2 separate regions of the Homo sapiens genome follow, and region 2 is reported to be linked to region 1. Evidence: microRNA targets listed by miRTarBase, many of them from high-throughput screens and not tested one by one. Region 1 holds a microRNA gene; the other region holds the end of a gene's coding sequence.

Region 1 (5,025 bases):
GTGCCCTGCCGTGTCTTTCTTCTTTTACTTAGCATCATGTTTTCAAGGTTCATCCATGTTGTAGCATTAATCAGTACTTCATTTCTGTTTATGGTGAATAGTGTTCCATTATAGGTATATACAGCATTTTATCCATTCATCAGGTGGACATTTGGATTGTTTCTCCTTTTTTGCTGTTATGAGTAATGCTGTTATGCACATTTATGTATAAAGTTTTGTGAGGACATATACTCATTTCTCTTGGGTCTATACGTAGGAGTAGAATTGCTAGGTCATGGGGTAACTCTGTTTAAGCTTTTGAGGAACTCCCAGACTGTACTTCCCACAGTGGCTATCCCATCTTACATTCCCAGCAGCAGCATATGAGGATTACAGTTTCTCCATATCCTTGCCTACACATGTTATCTGATTATAGGCATCCCAGCAGGTGTGAAGTGCTATCTCATTGTGGTTTTCATTTGCAGTTCCCTGGTAGCTAGTGATGTTAAGCATCTTTTCATGTATTTATTGCCCATTTGTGTATCTTCCTTGGAGAAATGTCTAGTCACATTCTTTGCTCATTTTAAAATTGTATTATTCATCTTTTTACTATGGAGTTGTTCTAGATACAGGTCCCTTATCAAATATATGATTTGCAAATATTTTCTCCCACTCTGTGGGCTGCTTTTTTACTTTCTTGATGTGGTCCTTCAAATCACAAAAGCTTTTAATTTTGATAAAGTCCAGTTTATTTATTTTTTCTTTTGTTACTTATGCTTTTGGTGTCATAGCTAAGACAGCTTTGCATTATTTTCAAGTATTCATGGAACATTAACCAAAATTAACCATACACTGGGTCACAAACCAAGTTTCAGCAAATTTTAAATGATCGAAATCCATTGTAGCATGTTTTCTGACCACAACAGACTTAATCTAGACATCAGTAATAAAAAGACAACTAGAAAACCCCCAGTTGTTTGGCAATGAAGCAGGAGAGTTTTAAATAAATAACCAATGGGACTGGGCATGGTGACTCATGCTTGTAATCCCAGCACTCTGTGGGGCCGAGGCAGGCAGATCGCTTGAGGTCAGGAGTTCGAGACCAGCCCCGCCAACATGGCAAAACCCCGTCTCCACTAAAAATACAAAAATTAGCCTCACATGGTGGTGCACACCTGTAGTTCCAGCTACTTGGGAGGCTGAGGCAGGAGGATTGCTTGAACCCGGGAGGCGGAGTTGCAGTGAGCCGAGATAGCGTCACTGCCCTCCAGCCTGGGCGACAGAGGGAGACTCCGTCTCAAAAAAATAAAATAAATTTTAAAAAATAATTAATGAGTAAGGTAGAAATTGTAACAGAAATTAGAAAATATTTTTAACTAAATGATAATGAAGATACAACATATCAAACTTGTGATGTATAGCTAAAGCTGTGTTTAGAGAGAAATTTATAGCCTTAAATATGTGCATTAGAAAAGAGGAAAGGCGAAAGTCAATTATGTATCAATCTCAAACACTACAAAATAATTAGCAAGTAAAGTGAGAGAATGACCATGTGGCTACCTGGGGAACAGAGGGAGAAAGACTTGGCTCTGTTGGGGAGGAGCACGCCTTAAACAGGCTGGCTGTAGGTTTGCGTGGGTTTGTAGCTTAGCTCTCTGTTAACCCTTCACTAGCTGAGGGACTTTGGGCAAATATTTTCCTCCTGAGTGTCTGTTTTTCCATCCATAAAATAGGTAGAAAGTCCCACCTCCTGAGTTTGTTGTAAGTTTTTTGTTTGTTTGTTTTTGTTTTGAGACAGAGTCTTGTTCTGTTGCGCAGGCTGGAGTGCAGTGGCGTAGTCTCGGCTCACTGCAAGCTCCGCCTCCCGGGTTCACGCCATTCTCCTGCCTCAGCCTCCTGAGTAGCTGGGACCACAGGTGCCCGCCACCACGTCTGGCTAATTTGTTTTGTATTTTTAGTAGAGACGGGGTTTCACCATGTTAGCCAGGATGGTGTTTGTTGTAAGTTTTAAATGAGTCTACATGCAAGCAGTAGTAGCTTAGAACAGTGCTCAGCACCAAGTGGGTGCTGTCCTAATTATGAGGATTGTCTATGTCTTTGTGAGAGTCTTTCACATCTCACGGGCCACAAGCCTGTGTTTTCCCTGCTCTGTAGGCATGAGGCAGGGCCCAGGTTCCATGTGATGCTGAAGCTCTGACATTCCTGCAGGCCCAGTTCCAAGGCTCCGGCATCCTGTGTCTCACTGAGCACTGCTGCCCGATGGCCATCCCCAAGCACTCCCTGAGCCCAGTGCCGTGGGAAGAGGACAGCTTCCTTCAAGTGAAGGTGGAGGAGGAAGAGGAAGCCAGCCTCTCCCAGGGCGGAGAATCCAGCCATGACCACATTGCTCACTCTGAGGCTGCACGCCTGCGCTTCCGGCACTTCCGCTATGAGGAGGCATCTGGTCCACACGAGGCCCTGGCCCACCTCCGAGCGCTGTGCTGTCAGTGGCTGCAGCCCGAGGCGCACTCCAAGGAGCAGATACTGGAGCTGCTGGTGCTGGAGCAGTTCCTGGGTGCGCTGCCCCCAGAGATCCAAGCCTGGGTGGGAGCCCAGAGTCCCAAGAGCGGAGAGGAAGCCGCTGTGCTGGTGGAGGATCTGACTCAGGTGCTGGACAAGAGAGGTAAAGGGGCGCCGTGGGCAGCTTCACGGCACACCAGAGATACACCCTGGACAGGAACATGGGAGCACAGGGCTCTGGTTTGGGGTTGCTCATGCACCCATTCTCACATTTGTACTTTACCGTAACTCTCACACACTGTTGTAGACAGGTGTGTTTTGGTTGCAGGTGACCAAAAGCGAGCTGAAATGGGCTGAAGCAAAGAAGGGTAAGGAGGCAGCAGATACGGCTATATCCAGAAGATCTGTTGACAGCATCAGAACTCTCTTCTTCCTCTCTTGTTCTGTTTCTCAGTTGGTTTTTTCTGTGTTAGCTTCATTCTTATTTTAGGTTCTCTTTCCAAAGGGGTTAAAGATAGCCAGGAACCCCAGGCTTATGTCTTACCAATGTAGAAACCCCGGGGTAATAACAATAAGAGGTCCCTGGTCTGAGCCCCCACTGGCCTGGTTGGGATCTTATGTTTGTGTTTGGCCAACCAAATCCCAGGGACTAACAGTGAGCAACTGGCTGTTTCTCAGAGGAAACCAGACGAGGGCCTGGGTGCCTGGGGTGGCTGTTGGGGGTGACGGAAATACCAGATGTCCCTGTGTACCTTCTCTATGCCCACCCTGGGCTGGCCTCCAGGATTTGGGTGGGTCAGACCTGCCCCAGGCTCAGCTGGGCACTGTTACTCACAGAGACCCACACAAACATCCCAACCCAGGGAGGTCCAGTGGGATGCAGGGAAGACCCAGCCTTGGGACAATCCAGAGCAGGGAGTGGTGGCTCGTCTCAGATGGGCTTGGCCTGGCCTATTGGCAACAGATAGGAGGTGGGCATACCACACACTGGGAGGAAACGTGCAGTGTGCAGGAGGAATGTGGAGTCTGGATACAGCTGCATCATCAAGGCTCAGTAGATCCAACCGCTGCTGCTCTTCCTGGCCATGTGACTCCCTTGTGCCTCAGTTTACTCATGGGTAAAATGGGGATTGTAATAAAAACGCCCACCTTAGTGGTGTTGCGAGATACAAGGCAATACCCGTGCAGCACCTGAAATGGTGCCTGGCACAGATTAAATAAATGGTAACTGCAACTGTTAGGATAATTTGTTCAGCTCTGGGAGAAACAGGCCTCTCTGGAACAGAGGTTGGTCTATGCCCAAGCAGATGTCACAGAGACAGGGAGAGGAAGGAGGGAGTGGCCCCATCCTCCCACAGGGTTGGCCAAAGCTCAGAGAAAGGGTAAAATGCAGAGGGAATGGTGGGGTCAAAGGCCTGGCAGTGTGATTTGCACTGGTGTATTCTGGTAAAAGCAGGTGGTGTGATGTTTCTGGATAGAGGAAGGAAGGGGGAGACAGGGCCAAGCAGATGGCTGGGGGAGCAGGGGAGACTGCCTGTGGACCTGGAGGAGAACATTCTGGAGCTGAAATCCCAACTGGGCCACTAGCTAACTGTGATCCTGTACCAGTTACTCAACACCTTCCCTCAGCTGGATTTCAGTTTCCCCATCTGCAACAGAATCACAGCAGTACCTCCTTCTGAGAGCAGGTCGAAGCTGAAATGAGGCGATGGAAGTCACCCACTGTGCTTGGGGCCCAGCACGACAAGAGCCTGATAGTGGTTAGTGGCCCTGGAAGGCCAGCGGCACAGCATCCATGGCTTACAGATGGGGAGACTGAGTCCCAGATGAGGGCAGGACTGATTAAGGTGGTAGACCTGGGGTTTGAGTCCAGTTTCTGCACTGCTGAGCCCCACTGTGGACTTGAGCAGTGGGTATTCCACCTGTCTCTGCCTCCTCCCTGGAATCCATCCAGTAGATGTGCCAGATTATGTGTCCTTTGCACCCATGCAGGGCAGGTCAGTGCGAGCATTCCTCTACCTCATGCACACTCTGATCTCCAAGAGCACCTCCGCCACACTCTGCCTTCATAGTACTTTACAATGTAGGGGCTTGAGAGGCCAGATGGGTACCTCATGTACTCACCCCCAGCAGCCATATTCTACCTGGGGTTCTACTTGCAGAAATTTTCACCATCGTGGGCTTCTGGATGGATTCCCTCATTCAGCCAGAATTCACTGAGCACCTGTGGACACATCCAGGCCTAGAGGCAAGGTGTTGAGTGTGAGGGACAGAACCGCAACCTCACAGAGATCAGAGCCTGCAGGGGACACATCCAGGCCTAGACGCAAGGCGTTGAGTGTGAGGGACAGAACTCCAACCCCACAGAGATCAGAGCCTGCAGGGGACACATCCAGGCCTAGACGCAAGGTGTCGAGTGTGAGGGACAGAACTCCAACCCCACAGAGATCAGAGCCTGCAGGGGACACATCCAGGCCTAGACGCAAGGTGTCGAGTGTGAGGGACAGAACTCCAACCCCACAGAGATCAGAGCCTGCAGGGGACACA
Region 2 (3,000 bases), not on the chromosome of region 1:
TGCCAGCCTCTCACACTGGGATGCAGCAGCAGCCCCGTGAGCAGGTGGCTCAAAAACAGGCACTTCTTATGTGCTGGGCCCTGAGCGAAACACAATTCTAAGCTCAGTTAGACTATTTTATTTCCATTTGACACATGCGGAGGCCGAGGCTCCAAGAAGCTAAGTAACTTGCCTGAAGTCTTGCAGTTTGGAAGTAGTCACGCTGAAATCCAGGCCATTTGACGACAAAACCTGCTGCTAAATACTGAGACACAGAGAAGGTGAGGCCCTCCAGCCTGAACATCCCAGCACTGCAGAGTGTGTGGAGTTCAGTGGGATGCTCGGAGGTGTGAGTAGGGGCCTCCTAGGTAGCAAAGCACGGGGAAGGCCAGATGAAAGAAAATTCAAGGGGTTTCTTTGCTGTGGGGCTTGTCAGAGACTTTGATGTGCTAATGGCCCACTGTGACTCTATCAGAGAAGTGGCTTCAGCAGGATTTCCCAAACTTACTTGACCAGAGTTATTTCTTTCTGGTAGACAACTTCCCCAAGTTTACAGATGGGGCAATGCGGGCCCAAAGAGGGGAAGCAGTTACCCTAGGGTCACAGAGCATATTTTTTTGAAGATCAGAAAACTCTATTCAGTCCGGGCCAGCCGCCTTTTCACCAGCCCCTCCCCCTCTACTCTTGGAACCCTGGTTCTTTCCCAAGCCTCAGGTGTCCACCATTACTAATGAATGCCCGCTGTCTCCCAGGCCACTGGTAGGAGGAGAGAGAGAAGTGCCTGCTGCACTTCAGGGGCCTGTGCCAGGCCAGGATCCACCTTGTGCACTGTTATCATGGGAGCAAAGGGCGATGTCAGGCAGGCTGTGCACACTTTTTATGGCCTGGCCACCTCCCAGAACAGTAAACAGAGGGGCAGGCAGCTGGCACCAGAGCCCCCGGGGAGAGAAGGCCCCGGGTAGTAGACTCCCGAGTTCAAAAAAAATTATACTTTCAGTCCATATTGCTCAAGTTCCTTTTCTCCTTTATTCCCTTCTTGGCCTGATCCATACTCGCTAGTCCTTTTCAGTCTCAGTTCAAACATTACCTACTCCAGGAAGCCTTCCAGGATAAGCTAGGCATGTGCTCTGCTCTCGTTGGATGCCCTGGCTCCCCTGACGCTCAGATTGGCCCTTATCCTGTTATATTAGTGTCATCTGTGTGCATAGCAGTCTTCCCCACTGGACTGGGGACTTCTGCAGAGCAATTCAGGACCCCTGAAGTCAGACCCTGAGGGGGGCTTTGTGGCTTCTCTCCTGCTCCAGCTGCCCAGACCACATGGACTCTGAATGCATTCTCCCCCTCTAGATCTTGCTCTCCTACCCTGGAGATGCCCTTCTCTGTAACCTTCCCCCTCCACATCTTCCCAAGACATGATCTCGCACCCCTTCTCCAGTCTAGGGGACAAGGACTGTGTGCTTCCCAGGCCCAGCCACGCGTAGCACATGGGGTGAGCAATGAATGTCATTATTGAAAGAAAAACCTGAACTGAACATATCTGAAAAATTCAAAAGACTGATATGTTGAGTCTGATGAATCTGCTTACAAAATGGACTCACATTTTTACGTAGTCTCATAGACCTAAACGAATGGTGTTCTGTTTTGATCTTTCAAATGTATTTTAAAGGTGACCTTGTTGTGGGCCTAAACAAACGGGAAAGGAATACACAATTGCTGGGGAAGGTGAGGATGATTTGTACTTCTCAAAAATGTTTCTTTAATGCTATGTATAATGATTTTTATACATTTTTGAAAAGAGAAGAAAAATTTATTCTTGAAGCTGCATCCAAGAGATTCCACTCTATATACAACACCTGTCCAGCTGTGAGCTCTGCTTGGTCCGAATAAAGTCCTCTGGGGGCTCCCTGGGCCCTGATGGGCAGCCTGGCGGGGGTGTAGAAACCTGGTAGGGAAGACTCTGCCCCCTTCTCTCCTCCCAGGGCCTCCCTCTCAATCCAGAGCCCTCACTGAGAATGATCATGAGGGCTGTGATTCTGTAACCCAGTGGAGCAGCCATCAGAGCCCAGTGCTATGGGCTTTGTGCTTAGTATCCAGCCTGGGAAGGGCTCAGTGCCCTTATGATGGGGGCAGGTAGAAGTGAGGCTGCAGGAAGAGGCAGGTGTGAGTTGACCACGTTCCTCCCTCCTCAGGTCATGCTCTGCAAGCATTCCATCTTTTTCAGCTCCATCCCTTTTCTCCAGGATCAGTGTGGTCCCCACAGCAGCCTCCAGCTGCACCTCTGAACGTATGGAGGAGGAGGTGGGGCCTGGAGCCTTGTCTAGGCCCCTCCCCCAACCATTTGGGGCTTGAGATGCCCACGGGAGATTGAGATCATCCACCCTGGACTCCCTTATCCCCCAGAGGTCTAGAACACAGGAGCTGGAAGGTCTTTATCCAACAGGCTTACTGCACAGATGGGCCAAGGGGATGCAGAGGGTGGATAGGTGACTGTCCACCATGTCCCAGAAGGTCAGGGCTGAGACTCGGACCAGACCTCCTGGGCCCACAGGAGCCACACTCCCAGCACCCGAGTCCCCAGGTCCCCCGGCGCACAGGCTGGGCATGGGGCTATGGCAGAAACTCCTCTTTCACAGGCATTGGAGAGGAGGTGGCCAGGAGGCTGGTGTTGCTGGGACACAGGCCCCCCAGGGATGGCCCGGCTGGGGTGGCCGTGATGTCGTGGGCCATCGGCGGCTGTGGGGGCTGTTGCTGCTGCTGTTTCTTCTTGTTCACTTTGCGCTCCTTTGCCCGCCGGTTTTGGAACCAGATCTTCACCTGTGGGGTTGGAGGACAGAGATGGAGTGGGCAGCAGGGAGAGAGTGAAAGAGAGAGTGCAAGAAGGAGAGACGAGGACAGTGAGCCCCTATTTCTCCATGTGGCTTTGTGGCTTATCTCCTCTCCAGCCTCCCAGACCACATGGACCCTGAATTCATTCTCCCCCTCTAGACATTGCACCCCTACCCTGGAGATGCCCTTCTTTGT

What was found. Region 1 holds the annotated microRNA hsa-miR-6806-3p (UGAAGCUCUGACAUUCCUGCAG, at 2,166-2,187, shown strand). A microRNA usually pairs through its seed, bases 2 to 8, with sites in the 3' UTR of a target mRNA and lowers its output. Matches are read on the target gene's strand: a 7mer-m8 pairs with bases 2 to 8, a 7mer-A1 pairs with bases 2 to 7 and ends in A, and an 8mer does both.
Region 2: miRTarBase lists CDX1 as a target of hsa-miR-6806-3p. Seed matches in the 3' UTR shown: 7mer-A1 at 1,794-1,800.

What each region holds. Positions count from the first base shown.
Region 1 is chr19:58,332,565-58,337,589 of GRCh38, forward strand. It overlaps MIR6806 (microRNA 6806), which reads left to right and starts at 2,124; the gene lies at 2,124-2,187. It overlaps ZSCAN22 (zinc finger and SCAN domain containing 22), which reads left to right. Exons shown (of 3, transcript NM_181846.3): 2 at 2,188-2,641. The coding sequence starts at 2,239.
Region 2 is chr5:150,183,267-150,186,266 of GRCh38, reverse strand. It overlaps CDX1 (caudal type homeobox 1), which reads right to left. Exons shown (of 3, transcript NM_001804.3): 3 at 1,709-2,793. The coding sequence ends at 2,587. Among named protein-coding and RNA genes, the nearest start is that of SLC6A7, 5.3 kb to the left of the region's middle. RefSeq lists an enhancer at 1-377.